Linked DNA regions of Homo sapiens: region 1 is reported to be linked to region 2. Evidence: microRNA targets listed by miRTarBase, many of them from high-throughput screens and not tested one by one. Region 2 holds a microRNA gene; the other region holds the end of a gene's coding sequence.
What was found. Region 2 holds the annotated microRNA hsa-miR-4769-3p (UCUGCCAUCCUCCCUCCCCUAC, at 3,123-3,144, opposite strand). A microRNA usually pairs through its seed, bases 2 to 8, with sites in the 3' UTR of a target mRNA and lowers its output. Matches are read on the target gene's strand: a 7mer-m8 pairs with bases 2 to 8, a 7mer-A1 pairs with bases 2 to 7 and ends in A, and an 8mer does both.

Region 1 (5,063 bases), not on the chromosome of region 2:
TTATCTGTGAAGAGACTCTGGGATCCCATCACCTCAAAGCCAGAGGGTCCCCAAGTCACCGCTGAGAGCACTTGAGCCTCAAGGATGTAAGCCTGACCATAGGATCTTGACTCCAACAGCGGCAACCCCCACCCCCATTGTGGTCCGTCCTTAACCCATCCACTCTTCTTCGGAGGCAACTGAGAACACATAAAGCAAGCAGCTACCTAGCATCCCCCTCCTAAAGCTTTAGACTCAGAGCCCAGGGTCCCCCACAAGCCTCAAGGTAGCCTCAGGTTTCTCTAATTTCCTCCACTCCCAGTTCGAAGCAAACAGCTTACTGCCTAGTCCCCGCCAATCCCAAGGGCGGGCTGGCTGATGGCAGCATGGTGGGCTGGCCTGGGTGTGGAGTGAAAGAGTCACTGTGGTGGGGGCGAGAGGAGGACTTGGGAGCTGGAGGTGTGACACCTTCAGTTCTGTTCCTATTAAAGGACCTTCTGAAGGGCTTCTCTGTCGGTCTTGTATTCGGATTGTCCGCTTTGGGGAGTTGGGGGAGGAGGGGCCTCACCATGGTTTTGCCACCAGCAGTCAGTTGCATCATCTCTTCCTCCAAGCTTCTGTTTCCCCATCATCAGAATGGGGGGTGAGTAGGCCCCACTGTGGTTACGTGTTATGTGGTTCAGCTGTAGGAGAGGGGGGTCAGGGAAGTTTGGCAAAAGCACACTCAACATGCTTTGCATGCTTGTTGAGTGAGAGCCTCTGATTTGCACACCTTTCTGTTCACCCAGTGGGCCCCATGAGATAACTCACAGGCAACTCACAATGTGAACAGAACTCATTCCATTTTCCTCAAAGAAACCTCCATGCTTCTGATGTCATTGGCACCACCACCCAAGCTGGATACCTGGGCAGGTTTAAACCTTCTTCATCCTCATTCTTATGTCCAGTCCCTTATCAGTTTCCCTCAGTTGAGCCAGTTAATATCTTTGGAACTGGAACGTGTTTTCGGCATCACTACACTTGTAGACCAACAGTGGTCTCACACACAGACAACTGCACAGCAGTCCAGTGCCTGCATTTTTTTTTTTTTTTTTTTTTTTTTTTTTTTTTTTTTTTTTTTTTGAGATGGAGTTTTGCTCTTGTTGCCCAGGCTGGAGTCCAATGGCACAATCTCTGCTCACTGCAACCTCTGCCTCCTGGATTCAAGCACTTCTGCCTCAGCCTCCTGAGTAGCTAGGATTACAGGTGGGCGCCATCACGCTCAGTTCATTTTTGTATTTTTAGTAGAGATGGGGTTTCATCATGTTGGCCAGGCTGGTCTCAAATTCCTTACCTCAGGTGATCTACTCGCCTCGGCCTCCCAAAGTGTTGGGATTACAGGCGTGAGCCACTGCACCCGGCCACCTGCCCTCTTCATTCTCCATATGGCATCCATGCAGATCCTTGTCACCAAGACACAGCTCCTTGTGGCTTTGAGACGATTTGGAAATGTGAATGCCTACAGGAGCTGGGTGAAAATGTAAATACACGAGCAAGACGGCCAGGTTCAAGGGGAAAATATCAGCAACATGAAATAATGGCGATTGCCACCAGGTCTCAGAATTGGTATTCAACAAATTGGAGAGTGCCTCTTCAGAAGAGGGTAATGGCTGCTCAGCTCCGGAACACAGATTGGGTTGCCACATCTTCCAGTTTCTTTCAGAAGTTCCATTAGTTCACATTATGTAAAATCTTTTGATTTCCCAATGTTGGCAGTCAAGTCAAACTTTTTAAAAAATGCACAGACTAAACAAAAATGTGTTAGTGGTCATATTCGGCCTTGCAGCTGCCAGTTTCCAGCCTCTAGCCTATAAAATCACCCAAGCCCCACAGTTTGGAATTCAAGACCCTTCAGGGTTTAGCCCCCAGGAACCCAACCTCCAGCCATACTAATCTGTCTTAAATGCTCCAGAATAGCAGGGTTTAGTTCAACACACTAAACTCTCCGCCTGGAAATCTTTGCCACTTCTTTTTTTTTTTTTTTTTCTTATTTATTTATTTTTTTGAGACAGAGCCTTGCTCTGTCGCCCAGGATGGAGTGCAGTGGCATGATCTCGGCTCACTGCAAGCTCCGCCTTCTGGGTTCATGCCATTCTCCTGCCTCAGCCTCCCGTGTAGCTGGGACTACAGGCGCCTGCCACCTGCTCCCACCACCACACCCGGCTGATTTTTTGTATTTTTAGTAGAGACAGGGTTTCACCGTGTTAGCCAGGATGGTCTGGAGCTCCTGACCTCGTGATCCACCTGCCTCGGCCTCCCAAAGTGCTAGGATTACAGGCATGAGCCACCGTGCCCGGCCTCTTTGCCACTTCTTTACCTGGAAAACTCCAGTTGGTTTATGTCATCGTTCAGGGATCACCTTCTCCCCAAGAAGCTTTTCTAGCCCCCCTTCCACTCTGACAGGTGACTCCTCTGTGCTCCCTCAAGCCCTAGTGATACTTCCAAGTCCCTTACACTGTGAGGCTCCATTTCCATGTTACTGCTGAACCCTGAACCCTGGGGGCACTGGCACAACGTCTGTCTCATGCTGGGTCTTCAGCATTAGAACATGGAGCCACACAGGGTAGCTGCTCTCCCATGGGTCACACAGGACTCACCCAAGCAGCGCTCTTACCTAGTTTCATCTTCAAGTTTCTTTTTTTCCTTTTTTTTTTTTTTTTTTTTTTTTGAGATGGAATCTCGCTCTTGTCGCCTAGGCCGGAGTGCAGTGGCGCAATCTCAGCTCACTGCAACCTCCACCTCCTGGGTTCAAGTGATTCTCCTGCCTCAGCCTCCCGAGTAGCTGGGATTACAGGCACCTGCCATCACGCCCAGCTAATTTTTGTACTTTTAGTAGAAAGGATGGTTCACCATGTTGGCCAGACTGGTCTCGAACTCCTGACCTCAGGTGATCTGCTCGCCTTGGGCTCCCAAAGTACTGGGATTACAGGCATGAGCCACTGCACCTGGCCTCATCTTCAAGTTTCTGTACTGAAGTACTCTGGGACTGAAGTCCAAATTATTTATTTGTTGAGATGGAGTCTCACTCTGTCACCCAGGCTGGATGCAGTGGTGCGATCTCAGCTCACTGCAATCTCTGCCTCCTGAGTTCAAGTGATTCTCCTGCCTCAGCCTCCTGAGTAGCTGGGATTACAGATGCCCACCACCATGTCCAGCTAAGTTTTGTATTCTTAGTAGAGATGGGGTTTCACCACTTTGGCCAGGCTGGTCTCAAACGCCTGACCTCAAGTGATCTGCCCGCCTCGGCCTCCCAAAGTGCTGGGATTACAGGCGTGAACCACCATGCCTGGCCTGGAGTCCAAATTCTGTGGATTTTTGAGATGTCCCTGGAGCACCTTTGTTCTTCAGGACCCCAGGCCCTTCTTCTAACAAATGAGATAACTAAACACACATTGCCAGGCATACATCTTGCTGTTCCCAGAGCCAACATGAGAGCTGTGAACGGGCTTTTGAATCTCCCAATCATTACCCTGGAGGACAAGTGCTAAGAGGGAGCTGTATCATGACCATCAGTCTGCACATGGTTGTGAGGCAGCCACGGCAGCCGGATGGGAGTTCTCTTTTGTGTTACTTGAGGCCAAGGGGCACGTCCAATTCATCTGTTTCCCCAGTGCCCAGCTCAGGGCCTGGCAGGCAGGAGGTCTCCGGAAGTGGTGGTGGAGTGAACAAAGGCTGAAAGCATCCGGAAGGGGAAGAGTCGGGGCATGTTAAGTCAGTTCCTGAGAGCAGACACTTACCTGTCTTGTCCATCTCCATTTGCCCAGCTCAGACTAACGCTGGGAATACAGCAAATCCTCAGTAAGTCCCTGTTGAATGAGAGTGAGTGAGAGACAGAGGCGCCCGGCATCAAAACTGCAGAGGAAACAAGTTTTAACTTTGTGCTTTGCCACCATGTGATCCCCACTCTCCCTGGGTGGGATGCAAGGATGGACTCCAGCGGCCCTCATGGTAAGATTTATTATTCTCCGCTCTGTACAAGCCGCGTCTGCCACCCCGCCCCCCACCCCCCCACCCCAAAAAGCACCCAGCACTCCCTTGTGCCCTCCCAACTCTGCTCATACTCCACTGTCCAGCCAGATTCCAAAGGAGGGGGAGGGGCGGTTCAGACCCATCTCCGCCAAAACTTACTGGGGGCAGAGTGCTGCTGGGGCGGGGGCTGATGCGGGTCACAAACGAGGGTTGGACGGAGGATAGGGTTCAGTGTCTGATGGGATGAGGGGAGGGCAGAGAGGTCGAGGATGGGAGTGATTCAGTCTTGAGCCTGTCGGGCGTGCGCCCTGAAGGTCGCCAGTCCGTGTGAAGTTCTGAAGGATGGGGCAACAGCGAGGAGGGGGGAAGAGTCTGATCAGTCCTGGGAGGTGGGAGTCCAGAAGGGGGCTTTTGATGGGAGTGGGATGGGAACCCCTCGGTCAGGCATCCTTCCCGGCCAAGGTGCCCGCCCCTGCTCCAGGCCCCCCGAGGTTCTCGGCCTTGTGCGCCAGGCGGTGTTTCTTGAGGCCGTAGGTGTTGGCGAAGCCCTCGCCGCAGGAGGAGCAGCGGAAGGGCCGGCCGCCCTGGTGGGCAGCCAGGTGCTTACGGAAGTAGCCGGGATCCTTGAAGGCCTTGAGGCAGGCGGGGCAGCGGAGCTCGGGCCGCGGCGGCTCATGGGCGCGCTGGTGGCGCAGCACGGAGCTCAGGTAGAAGAAGCCCTTGCCGCAGTGCTCACAGCGGTAGGCGCGCTCGCCCAGGTGCAGCCGCTGGTGCTCCAGCAGGTTGGAGCGGTAGCGGAAGGTCTTGCCACAGGCGCTGCAGCGCTGGGGCCGGGCCACAGCGTGCAGCCGCCGGTGCTCTGCCAGGCTGGACGACTGCGCGAAGCGCTTGGCGCACACGCCGCACTTGAAGGCCCGCTCGCCAGTGTGCACCACGCGGTGCTGCCGCAGGTACCAGGAGCGCAGGAAGCCTCGGCCGCACACGCCACATCGGTACGGCCGCTGTTCCGTGTGGCAGCGCTGGTGGCGCATCAGCAGGGCCGCCTCCCAGAAGCGCTTCCCGCACACCGGGCAGCG
Region 2 (5,065 bases):
GCAGAGTGCAGACTTCTATCCCTCAAAGGACCTGGAGGGACAGAGGCCATGTCCCAAGGACCAGTGTAGCATGACCATATGTCCCTTGGCTAGGACATGCTATGATCCCCAAGTCTCAAAGACTCAGAACACTACGGACTGGGGACAGAATTTGCTGTGACGGGCTGAAGTTGGGAACATAGTATTGTGAGGCGGGGGTTCTTCGTGGGGAGAATGCTCCAGGGATGGGGACTTTTTGTTCCAGGGTGGTGCAGAGGGAGACCTGAGGGTGAGGAGTCCACACAGGGTGGGGACAGGTTGGCTGGCCTGCCGTTAGGAATCCCTAAAGGGGAACCTCTCCTCATGGTGTCGCCACAGTTGTTGTGGGTGGGCGTGTAGAAGGATCTAACCACATTGCTCTTTATTTTCAGGTGCTTCTGTGAGCCACAGGTTCAGGACTCCACTAGGAAACTGGATTGTCTGTGAGGGGGAAAAGAGAGAGGGACACTGGGACTGAGGAACATTTATGGCGTAAAGAGCTGGGATCTTAGTATCACATCAGGAGCTTTTGGGTCTCGGAGACCTACCCCATTCCTTCAGGCAGAGCAGGGTCAGGAGCTTGTATTTTGGTGAGGAGACTGGTGTGGGGGAGAAATGGACATTAAATTATTGGTACTAATCATACACATTATTTCCAATATCGTATATTATCATGCCTAATATCAAACATTGTTTGCAATATTATAAATAATCACTACTAAAGTTATAAGTTATAGTTATCATAACTACTTCTAGTAACTAATGCTTGTAAGTGCTATATGCCTAGCACTGTTCCAAGTACTTCACATATACAACCTCATTTAATATGGACATTGTCTCTATGAGTTAGGCCTTCTTTTTATCCCTGTCTTACAGATGCAGGAACTGAGGCTCAAAGAGGCAATATGATTTATTCAAGGACACAGAGCTAAGACATGGCAGGGGCAAGATTTGAATGCAGATGATCTGGCTCCAGGGTTCCTGCTTTTTTTTTTTTTTTTTTTTTGAGACGGAGTCTGGCTCTGTTGCCCAGGCTGGAGTGCAGTGGCTTGATCTCAGCTCACTGCAAGCTCCGCCTCCCAGGTTCATGCCATTCTCCTGCCTCTCGAGTAGCTGGGACTACAGGCGCCCACCACCATACTCGGCTAATTTTTTTTTTTTTTGGTATTTTTAGTAGAGACAGGGTTTCACCTTGTTAGCCAGGATGGTCTCGATCTCCTGACCTCGTGATCTGCCCACCTTGGCCTCCCAAATTGCTGGGATTACAGGCGTAAGCCACCATGCCCGGCCTTTTTTTTTTTTTTTTTGAGACAGTCTTGCTCTATCCCCCAGCCTGGGGTGCAGTGGCATGATCTCAGCTCCCTGCAACTTCCGCCTCCTGGGTTCAAACGATTCTTGTGCCTCAGCCTCCCAAGTAACTGGGACCACAGGGCATGCGCCACCACAGCTGGCTAAATTTTGTATATTTAGTAGAGATGGAAACCATGTTGGCCAGGCTCGTCTTGAACTCCTGACCTCGTGATCTGCCCACCTTGGCCTCCCAAAGTGCTAGTATTACAGGCGTCAGCCACCATGACTGTCCCATTTCCTGTGTTTTGACCCCCCCAAAAATATCCAAGGGGCAAAGACACCCCGTAAACATCCTCCAACCCCACCACAGACCTCTGAAGGATTCTGGGCCAGGACTGTGACGTCCATGTTTAAACATGGCGAGAAGGACTGAGGCTCAGGTGAGAGAAGGACTGGCCCCCCAGGCTCCCCACTGAGCTGGGTCCCATGCTGAATACCACATGGCTGTGACCCCTACAAGCTTCCTCTCAGCTGTCACAGAGTCTCTCCCAGAGATTCACCCACAGACACCCCGAATGCTGGGGATGGAGGATGCTCACTTGACCTATTTTAACAGATGTTCTACAAGAGCAATGGGGGATGTAATGAGCCCAGGGTTACAGATCCTGCCAGGAGCTCATGCCAGGTCTCTGGTGGAGGTAGCCTCGTCTGCTGTTCTGGGCTCTGTGTCCCCTGAGACCTGTTCTGGTCTCCGGTCCTCCCTGTCCATTCTGCATTGCACTTGGCGAAGGGCTGACCTGCAGGGTAGACAGGTCGGCAGGAGAACGACCTCCACGCTGGGTTCCATCCTTCCCCTGCTACTTCACCTTCCCCCTAGGGCTTGGAAGAGCTGAGGACTTAGGAAATGGGCCCTGAGGCCAGGGAGCAGCTTAAGAGTGCAGGTAGCTGACACTAAGGTTTGGCGAATTGCCAGGAGCGGTCAGCCTCTTGCAGGCAGCTGAGGGAACATTGACAAGGTCACCAGGGATGAACCAGGGCTCGGGCCCTTACCTTACAGTTGTGCCCATCAGCAAAGGCTGCGGTTGGCCCCTTCGGTGGACAAGGTTCAGACCCTCCGAGGGCGTAACCAAGGTGTAGATGTTGATGTAGAAATTGTTGCTGCATGCGCATTCCCTGCTTAAGTGGCTGAGTACTGTGTGTTCAAAATCTGCCCATTCCCATCCGGGACATAATTTGGGCCGTGGGGTAACCTCCCAGGAGTGTAAAAGGCTCTGGGACAGGACCACAGAAGATCCAGGGGGCTGTGCTTGGTGACCTAGAATGCCCTGGAGGAGACCTGGGTTCTTACTGGTAAGAGCAGTGGGTACTCTGATGAGAGGGAATTTGGGGGTCCTTTTCTTTACCAAAGGAGATATATTGGGGCCCTTTTCAAGCACGTTCAGGTCAGGAGGACACAGGTGCTCCATTGAATGTTTGCACCAGTCTGAAATTCTAGTTCCCAAGGGCCTCACTTGAGTCAAGACCTTTGGAGTATGAGGGGCAGGAGCCAGGGACTGGACCCCGCTGTGGAAGCAGGAAGGCCTCAGAGGGGAGTATTTGGAGGTTCTCTCACTCAGTTTTTCTAGAGAAAGGATGATTCATAAAGGTGAGGGTCGAGTCTAGAGACCCTAGTTTGGGTGAGGGGACAGTTGGGTTGAGGGAGGTGTGTGGAGGGTATGGGCCAGCATATCTGGCTGGTCTTAATTTTGAACCCTACCTGCATTTCATTGCTGTCAGTATTTCCTTCCAAGTTGGTCAGAGGAGTGAGGGGAGAAGTAGGGGAGGGAGGATGGCAGAGCTTGGGGATTTTTAGCTCATACCTTCTCTCCATCCCACCTCTCCTCTGCCCCAAACAGTCCCTTCCAAGGAATGTCCTGCAGCCATGGCTGGGGAGCCAGGGCCACCCCTTCTTCCCAAGTCCCCAGCTGGGTTACTGTGGGACTCTGGGTGCCCTGGGTCCCCTTTCACTCAAGTCAGACTCATGGTACAAAACCTGAGGATGAGGACAGTAACACCCACGTGTTTGGATGGGGCATCCTCACTGGACAACATCAGGACTGTGCTTGAGGCAATGATAGTCATTTGCCAATTGGTAGGGCATTTGTCAATGACTCTGTCAGCTGGCAAGATGTGTGAATGGGGAATTTCCAGTAAGGCAGTGATTTGTCAGCTGTGGGATAATTTATAACTAGAAAGCCCTGGGCAAATAGCAATTAGGAATCAGTATAGGAAAATGTTTTAAAGTATTGGCTGGAGAAATTATTCAGAGGTTACGGTTGATAATGCAGGTTCAGTGACCATTGCTGCTGTTGCAGATCATCAGTGCTAATGCCAATGTTGAGAATTACTACCAGTACATCAGAATTTAAGTAAAATATAAAAACCCAACATTTGGCATCCCTCATCCCCACTGGTCCCAGGGTGCTCACACCAGGTCATCAGCAACATGGGTTTGTTCCCAGGCACTACACAGAAACAGTGTCTGCTGGGTGGTAACTCTTTATTTCATTGTCCGGAAGAAAGATGGGAGTGGGAACAGGGTGGACACTGTGCAGGCTTCAGCTTCCACTCCGGGCAGGATTCAGGCTATCTGGGACCGCAGGGACTGCCAGGTGCACAGCCCTGGCTCCCGAGGCAGGCAGGCAAGGTGACGGGACTGGAAGCCCTTTTCAGAGCCTTGGAGGAGCTGGTCCGTCCACAAGCAATGAGTGCCACTCTGCAGTTTGCAGGGGATGGATAAACAGGGAAACACCTGGAAGGGAGGAGGGAAACATCTCTGAGGGCTTCTCCCTGCCTCCCCCGTGGAGCAGAACTTCCTCTCCTCAGCTTTCAACACTGAGCCGCTGGGGAGACTTGCTCTCACCCCACCTAAGTACATACCCCAGGACAGCCCCTCCCATTGAGGGAAATGTCACTGGGTCCTGAAAGGTAACAGTAAGCCAGTAAATCAGTGTCCTGGAATGGTGGCTGGGGAATAGGCCCTGGGGGTCAGTCAGGCAGGTCGCCTGTGGAATTGTCCCAAAGGACAGGGAAAAACTGGCAGTAGTAAGGGGCCCCACCCGGTTGGCGGCTAAGGAGTTTAAGCACAGGAATAGCCAGTGGGGCTTCAAGATAGTCACTGGGCTCAGAGGCCATCAGGAGCCATCAGGGAACAGGCTTGGACTAGCCAGGAGGTCAGTGTAACACCCTCTGGTGTCTGGAATAGTCAGAGCTGCAGAGCAACAAGCAGATGTGCTGAGGAAGGGTCAGTGGGATTAGGGAACAGCACTTTGGGTTCTTGGAGAACATTCTGGGGAACCAAGAAACAATCCCGGGGGCTCAGGAACGGGGAGTGGGATTACAGAATAGTCACAAGGGAGAATTAGAGGGACCAGGGAGGGACAGGTGATCACACGGTATTGGACACAGGGAAAGGGAGCAGCCAGAATTTGTAAGGGAGCAGTCTCGGGCTTGGGGAAATAGCAAGAGAGATCAGGGACAGCCCTTAGGGTTGGGGAGCAGCCACAGGGACACAGAATAGCCAGAGGGAGCAAGAAACAAGCCCACGATTTAGGGAATGGCCCCGGGAAGGATCTCCCGTTGGAGGTCAGGGTCCAGGCACTCACTGTGCATTCCTCACAGCCAACAGTGTAGGTCTTGGTGAAGCCCCGGCGCTGAGCTAAGCTCAGGCTGTTCCAGGGAGCCACAAAACTGCAGGTAGTGATGTGCAAGAGTCCAT

Region 1: the mRNA of ZNF865 is a reported target of hsa-miR-4769-3p. Seed matches in the 3' UTR shown: 7mer-A1 at 4,003-4,009.

Annotation. Positions count from the first base shown.
Region 1 is chr19:55,616,163-55,621,225 of GRCh38, reverse strand. ZNF865 (zinc finger protein 865) reads right to left here. Exons shown (of 2, transcript NM_001195605.2): 2 at 3,957-5,063. The coding sequence ends at 4,428. ZNF784 (zinc finger protein 784) reads left to right here. Exons shown (of 2, transcript NM_203374.2): 2 at 1-485. Among named protein-coding and RNA genes, the nearest start is that of ZNF784, 5.9 kb to the left of the region's middle.
Region 2 is chrX:47,585,555-47,590,619 of GRCh38, reverse strand. It overlaps MIR4769 (microRNA 4769), which reads right to left and starts at 3,191; the gene lies at 3,115-3,191. The region is part of intron 5 of SYN1 (synapsin I); the gene reads left to right. TIMP1 (TIMP metallopeptidase inhibitor 1) reads right to left here. Exons shown (of 6, transcript NM_003254.3): 5 at 4,953-5,065; 6 at 3,831-4,099. The coding sequence ends at 3,929. RefSeq lists a silencer at 3,036-3,330.